2 linked regions of the Homo sapiens genome follow. The protein of the gene in region 2 purifies or fractionates together with the protein of the main gene of each other region. This does not show direct contact. Each region holds a gene or a part of one and is shown on either strand. Other genes may lie near its edges. The genes, in order: WRAP73 and SPRR2A.

Region 1 (3,817 bases), about 150 Mb from region 2:
AGGATGAGGCCCGGGGTGGGGGACCGTCTCCAGCAGCGTAAGTGGGGCCGCAGCGTGTGGGGCACAGCATGTCCACAGTGTCACTCCTGCAAACGCTGCCAGGTTGTCAGTATAGGATATTAACAAATGATTTAATTTAAATGTCTACGCATCATCTCTTCTTACAACAGAAAAGAAAATCTGATGTCTGTAATTGTTTCTCCAAACAACATATACAGCGTTCAGGAGAGAAGTCCTGAACACACAGGTAGTGGATCAACGAGCTCCAGGGGTCACGTGGCAGCACGGAAGGGCTCCTGTGCTGATGCTGAACCCGAAACACACTGGCCGTTCTGGGGACCATGCCTCGGAACTCCAGCTGCACAGAGCACTTGCTCCTCTAACAGCTCCACAAGCTGAGGCCAAGGAGGGCGCTGGGGCCTGAGCGAGGAAGCGTGCTACTTCCCACCAGCGTGTCTGAGGCTGAAACCTTGCCCAAGCCTCTCAGACTCAGCAGGGTGGGTGCAGCGCCTGAGGCTCTGAGCATCAGCAGGGCGGGGTGGAGCGCCCGAGCATCTCAGCATCAGCAGGGCGGGGTGGAGCGCCCGAGGCTCTGAGCATCAGCAGGGCAGGGTGGAACACCCGAGGCTCTGAGCATCAGCAGGGCGGGGTGCAGCGCCCGAGGCTCTGAGCATCAGCAGGGCGGGGTGCAGCGCCCGAGGCTCTGAGCATCAGCAGGGCAGGGTGGAACGCCCCAGGCTCTGAGCGTCAGCAGGGCGGGGTGGAGCGCCCGAGGCTCTGAGCATCAGCAGGGCAGGGTGGAGCGCCCGAGCATCTCAGCATCAGCAGGGCAGGGTGCAGCAACGGAGCATCTCAGCATCAGCAGGGCGGGGTGGAGCACCCAAGCATCTCAGCATCAGCAGGGCGGGGTGCAGCGCCCGAGCCTCTCAGCATCAGGAGAGTCCATGTGCCACCCAGGGCAGAGACCTGCCCTCCAGAGCCTACTGCAGAGTCACAGGAGAAAAGCACATCTCCCACCTGTGGCCCTGCATCCCTGTGGGGTGCGCCTGGCCGAGGCTCCCCACTCAGGCACATCTTAGGAAACACAGGGAGCACTTTAAGCCTGATTTTTACCTTCATCTCACAAAAACAAAGAAACAAAAACCTTTAAAAGATAACTTTGCAACTTTTAAAAACCCAATAAGAAAAAAAGGTAGTTAAATATACACCTTCATCAGCGCTGTTACCTTCCACTGACCACTGGAGAAGCCAGCGGAGGAGACCCGTGGGATGGGCTCCACAGCACTCAGCAGCAGGAAGAAAGGACCAGAGGGATCCACATGACCCAGAGCACTCAGGAGGGAAGGAAGGGGCCGCTGATCCACGCTACGACCCAGTGTGCTGAAGACGGAAGGAACGGGCCACCGATCCACACCACAACTCAGCATGCTCAGGGTGAGAGGAATGGGCCACGGATCCAAGCCATGACCCAGTACACTCAAGACGGGAGGAACAGGCCACTGATCCATGCCACGACCCAGCACTCTCTCCACACCATGACCCAGCACTCTCAAGATGGAGGAACGGGCCACTGATCCACCCCACAACCCAGCACACTCAAAACCAGCAAGATGCCAGGGAAAAGGAAGCAGACGCACAGCTCCACGCACCATGGCTCTGTGCAGATGGGATTCCGAGTAGGCAGTGCTGCTCGCCCCGCAGCAGGCACCGGCTGCCGGACACAGGTGGGAGACGGACTGAGCACAAGGGGCACGAGGAGCCCCATGCCACGGGCGAACAGTCTTGGTCCTGATTGTGGCGGCAATGACGTGCAAAGTGACTCACTCAACTGTGCTCTTAAAGTGGGTGAATTCTCTTGCTTATAAATTGTTTTAATTGCCTTTATTCAGATATAAGAAAAAGTCTGCAGTCTGGATATATTTTTAAAGCTAACTATAGACTATTTACAACATACACACTCAAGTTTAAGGATGCAGAAATGTAGAAGGTAAAAGGATAGAAAAAGACATATCAAGAAAATCCTAACCAAGAGAAAGGTGGCACTGCCGCATTCGTACGGGATAAATCAGACTCTGAAACAAAAAGAACCGTGAGACATAAAGAGGAATACTTTACAACAAAAGGCCTGTGCCACCGCGGAATCATGGGAACCGCTTCACTAGGAAATCTGTTTACAAACAGTTAAAAGTTTGTATGCAGCTAACAACAAAGTCTCAAAAATACATTTAAAAATCTGGCAGAGCCGGGCGCACTGTTGTGCACCTGTAATGCCAGCTATACAGGAGGCTGGGAAGGAAGGATTGCGTGAGTTTAGGAGCTCGAGACCAGCCTGGGAAACAAAGGGAGACCCCAACTCTACAAAAAAATTGTTTTTAAAAAATCTGACAGACTACAAGAGCAATGAAGAGGAATCAGTCCCATCAGATATTCAAACACACCATAGAACCTCAATAATGTAGACAGTGTGGTGCTGGCACATAGGTGGACCAACAGTGGACTGGAATGGAAACCAGAAGTGATCCTGCAGGTATAATGGAACTGAGCTCCTGCTATAGCTGGTGAAGATAGCCTTCTAAATAAATGCTGCTGGGAGCTGGGCACGGTGGCTCACACCTGTAATCCCAGCACTTTGGGAGGCCGAGGCAGGCAGATCAACTGAGGTCGAGAGTTTGAGACCAGCCTGACCAACATGAGAAACCCCATCTCTACTAAAAATACAAAATTAGCCAGGCGTGGTGGCGCATGCCTGTAATCCCAGCTACTCGGGAGGCTGAGGCAGGAAAATCGCTTGAACCTGGGAGGCGTAGGTTGCGGTGAGCTTGGATCACACCATTGCACTACAGCCTGGGGGACAAGAGCGAAACTCCATCTCAAAAAAAAAAAAAAAAAAATGCTGCTGGGAAAAGGTAGAAATGGATTCAGACCCCACAGTGTGCCCCACTACGTGAACCTGCTTCATTTAAATGGAGCATGTGTGAGCGTCTGTGTGTAATGAAACAAGATAGGAAAGCACTCAACCTCACCGAGAATTAGGGAAACGCAAACTAAATCCAAACTGCAGTATCATTTAGTCGCCTGGATGGAATCATTGTAATCCTGCCACAAAAGCCTTGGCAAATGAAACCCCTCCGTCTGCTACGGCCAAGCAAGGCTCTCCTAGAGAGGCTCTCCGGGTATGTGCCCAGGAGACGGGGACAACACGTTCACAGCCACACCGTCCGTGGTGACGCACACGTCCAGCAGGCGAGGACTGAATGGCGTTCCTCACGAGGAAGGGAAGGCCCAGCGATGCCTGTCAACACGGAGGAGTCTAAAAGCAGTGACGGGGAACAGCAACAGCAGAGACTGCAAAGTACAAGCCCCTATAAATCAACTTTACACTGCACAGCAAGCAATGTGGTGTTTAGACACATCTGTACAGTGAGACTCAAGAACAGTGAGGATGTGATTCACGCAAGACGTGGGGCAAAGGTGCCCTCAGGTGGGGAGGGCATTGCTACGAGGAAGAGAAGGGCTCTGAAAGCGCGGCAGTGTTCCGCTGCAGGCCTAGGGGTGAGCCGCTTTTGATGACTCACTGAACCTCGTCTAATGGGCGCAAGCTTGCCTTTTCACGTTAAAATGCAAGAGGCAGGGACGTCTCCCATGCTCCACAGCACCCTCACGTGGGGTGGCGCCTTCGCAAGTGGACTCAGCGGCCCCACTAACCCCCGAAATGGGGTCGCGCCTTCGGAAGGGGACCCAGCGGCCCCGCTGAGCCCCGGACATGGGGTCGCGCCTTCGGAAGGGGACCCAGCGGCCCCGCTGAGCCCCGGACATG
Region 2 (3,563 bases):
ACACATGTTCTTCCTGGAGCATAGCTGGTGACTGCTCTGATGATTTTGTCTTTCCTCTTCCTCATTCCCCTTTCTTCTTATCTACTTACAAAACCACATTCTTGGAAAGCTTCCTGATTAATGGTCCAGATAAGGAAGCTCTAGCAATATCACTTTAAATGCTTAATATACAATATTTAGAAAACCTTATGATTGTAAAAGAGCTTAAAAAAGATGTGAAAGAACAATCACTAAATGCATTGACAACATATGTGTTAAGTGAACAATATGTACCAAAATGGACAGATGAGAGGTGTACATTGGGGTGTGAGTTGATAATCCAGCAGACTGTGGGACTAGAGGGTCTACGGAAAAAACAAAGGAAGAACATACAAACAAATTTTAAAACACTGTCTTTCAAACACCTAAAACCTGTTTGGAAATAGAGAGCAAGAATACATATTGGATTACACTTAGCTTTTATTTTCCTCTAGATTTCAGACTTTAAGTGCTCTGAACTTCTGCACTCTGCAAACCTACTTCTAATTATTTACATATGATAACATGAGTCTATGCAGCTTGTTCTCTATAGGATATTCACAGGACACTACAGAATGTTTTGGGAGATTATGTAATATTTAAAATATTCAAATTATACTAAAAATGTATGTAAAATGTATTGAACATAGGCAAGTTTCAATACATAGATTTTGAGTGAATGCTTGCAACTTTGGTTCCATTCTCTCTACTTCCTTAAGGTGGTGTCCAAGAGTACATTTTTATAAATAAAAAGTTATAGTACACATCCCTAAGGGCAGCAAGTAGAAAACGTGCTAGGGAGACTCGATCTCACTTTGGAATCTATCCTGGGAGACAAATGCCTCTACAAATGGATTAGAGAAGACAGTTTTAAAGAGGAAGATAATACAGGTAAAATCTGGGGTTTTATGAGAGAAAGAAAGAGGTAGAAGAAAAAATTTCAAGCTCGAACAGGGTCATCAGGTGGCACAATGCGGTCAATGCCTGCAAACTCAGGGGTAAGTATTATTCTCCCTGTTTACAGTTCCGTGGAGGAGAAGTGACTTGCCTGTGGTCATACAACAGAGCAAAGAAAAGGCTTGAGCTAGAACTCAGGCCTTTGTTAGGTCTCCCCTTCCTCCTAGCACATTGGCAAATTGCATGAGGAAAGTAGAGGTACAGTTGAGTTCATGTACAACAATAAGGCATTCAGGTAAAGTGAATGAGGGCAGAAGTTTTATGATTTAGGGAAGGTGTAAGACAGGAAAATATCTTTGTTCCCAATTAAGAAAGAGATCCCTTGACCATCAGTTAGAGATTCCCCCAAGTCCCTCTTTGCCATAAGTCACTGAAACTGAGATCCAAGGCATGGCTTCTGTGAGTCAGGAGAGCTTAACCCAGAGGAGAGATTTCAGAACAGGATATTTCCTATTTTGAGTATCCTGCTCATGCCAGTCATGGATAAATTTGCATCTGGCTTAAGAAATTACTGGATCAGCATTGTTTTGGGTAGTTTCACTTCCTGCTGGGTGGGGTAGCAGGCTCTATAAAGAGATCCTCTGCTGCACGACTCTTAAACCCCTGGTACCTGAGCACTGATCTGCCTTGGAGAACCTGGTGAGTCGGCTTCCTTGAGTTCCTCTGTTCTTTGTGCCCTGAAATGTTGAGTTTAATCTGAATATGGCAAGTTTGGTGGATCCAATCCTATGAAAATTGACTTGATGCTACTTAGTGGATGAAAATTTAAGATTAGAGCACAATTATATGCTATTTTAGCTTTCTTTTGTTATACAGGTAGGTATCCATATGGACAGAGAAGTTAAGGGGTAACCTTTGATATGAAGAAGAAAAAAGAACAAAGTATTTTTCTTTATTCTCTGTCTTTCTAGTGTCCTTTACAAAGGTTTGTGTCTTAGCAGGTGTGAAAGACTACAATTCTCCCTGAGCAGCCCTTTGCTCTATGCCCAAGTCAGCCCACTTGGACTTTATAACAGATAATGATGATAGGAATAGCATATTAGATTGCCCAGGGTGTCTGAACTTGTGACTGCCTTTCTTGAATTGGTTATTTTCAGGGAAATAAGATGCTTGATTCTTTATAACAGAGATAATTTATTTGGAAAAATTGTATGAGAAAACACAGGATTTCCTAGGGACAATGAAGCAATTTGTTAAAGTGGAAGGGAGAAACCAGAAAGTCTTGAAAAGGTAATTAAGAATTTAAATAATTTCTTGGAGATTGGAGAAATAATATGCCATGGTATTACACAAGCTTTGGCTTCTCTCTCTGGAGGATTCCCTTCCCACGAACACTGTTGTATCATTTCTTTCAGATCCTGAGACTCCAGCAGGATGTCTTATCAACAGCAGCAGTGCAAGCAGCCCTGCCAGCCACCTCCTGTGTGCCCCACGCCAAAGTGCCCAGAGCCATGTCCACCCCCGAAGTGCCCTGAGCCCTGCCCACCACCAAAGTGTCCACAGCCCTGCCCACCTCAGCAGTGCCAGCAGAAATATCCTCCTGTGACACCTTCCCCACCCTGCCAGTCAAAGTATCCACCGAAGAGCAAGTAACAGCTTCAGAATTCATCAGGACCAAGAAAGGATAAGGATATTTGGCTCACCTCGTTCCACAGCTCCACCTTCATCTTCTCATCAAAGCCTACCATGGATACACAGGGAGCTTCTTTCTCCTTAGCCAGTAATCTGCCCATGATGATCCCTGACAGCAAAAAGTTTCTTTTCTGAGGCTGCCATACTGCCACTGTCCAGGTGGAGACTGAGCAAAGGAAGTCCTGGGCTGTGCCAGCTCCCAGAGCTTCGGAAGAAAGAGCAGCAGCTCTCTCCCTGGGAACCATCAGAGAATTCTGTTGATGTGTTCTGTGTCTGTCTGTCACCTGGTCACGAGCTTCTACCACCTTTGCAATTGTCACTTATCTTTCACTCCCTGAATAAAGTATCTATGCATATATATTTGTGAATGGATCTTTTGTTTATTTTCAAATCTGCTTTATTAGCAATAGTATGTAATCTTTTGGATTTATTTCAATCTTTCTTTGATTCACAGCAGGATCTCACAATTGGAGTCATACCAAAGATTATTTCTGTATCATTTTAAACCCCTTTTATTTTCCCTAATTAGCATTTGATTGATTTGAGGAGGATATTATTCAACTTCTCTGAATTGACAACTTCTCTTTACTGCAAAGTGAGCAAAATAACATTTACATTACAAACTAGTCTAAGGCATAAAATTTGATTACTATCTGATATTTGGTTGGCACAATGCCTGACACGTAATTAGCTGTCATTTGATAGAGTTGTATTCGCAGCAACATATTATCATTGTTTTCACCATCACCATCCTCCTCCTCCTCCTCCTCATCATCATCACTCCCCACTACAACCACTACCATATTTGTTCCAGCAAGAGAGTGGCTTGGGTGTAACTAACATAGGAAATAAGAAGACTCTCTAATGTTATTTGTATTGATTCATAATACTTGTACACATTTACTGCATACATGTGATTTTTTACATGAATAGAATGTGTAATGATCAAGTCAGGA

The links.
Region 1: the proteins of SPRR2A (region 2) and WRAP73 purify together in Homo sapiens (co-immunoprecipitation; one large-scale study listed by IntAct). This does not show direct contact.

What each region holds. Positions count from the first base shown.
Region 1 is NC_000001.11:3,639,866-3,643,682, forward strand, and holds part of WRAP73 (WD repeat-containing protein WRAP73), read right to left. Parts: intron 1-3,817.
Region 2 is NC_000001.11:153,055,522-153,059,084, reverse strand, and holds SPRR2A (small proline-rich protein 2A), read left to right. Parts: upstream 1-1,572; 5' UTR 1,573-1,614; intron 1,615-2,330; 5' UTR 2,331-2,349; coding exon 2,350-2,568; 3' UTR 2,569-2,965; downstream 2,966-3,563. UniProt on the Homo sapiens protein: Gut bactericidal protein that selectively kills Gram-positive bacteria by binding to negatively charged lipids on bacterial membranes, leading to bacterial membrane permeabilization and disruption.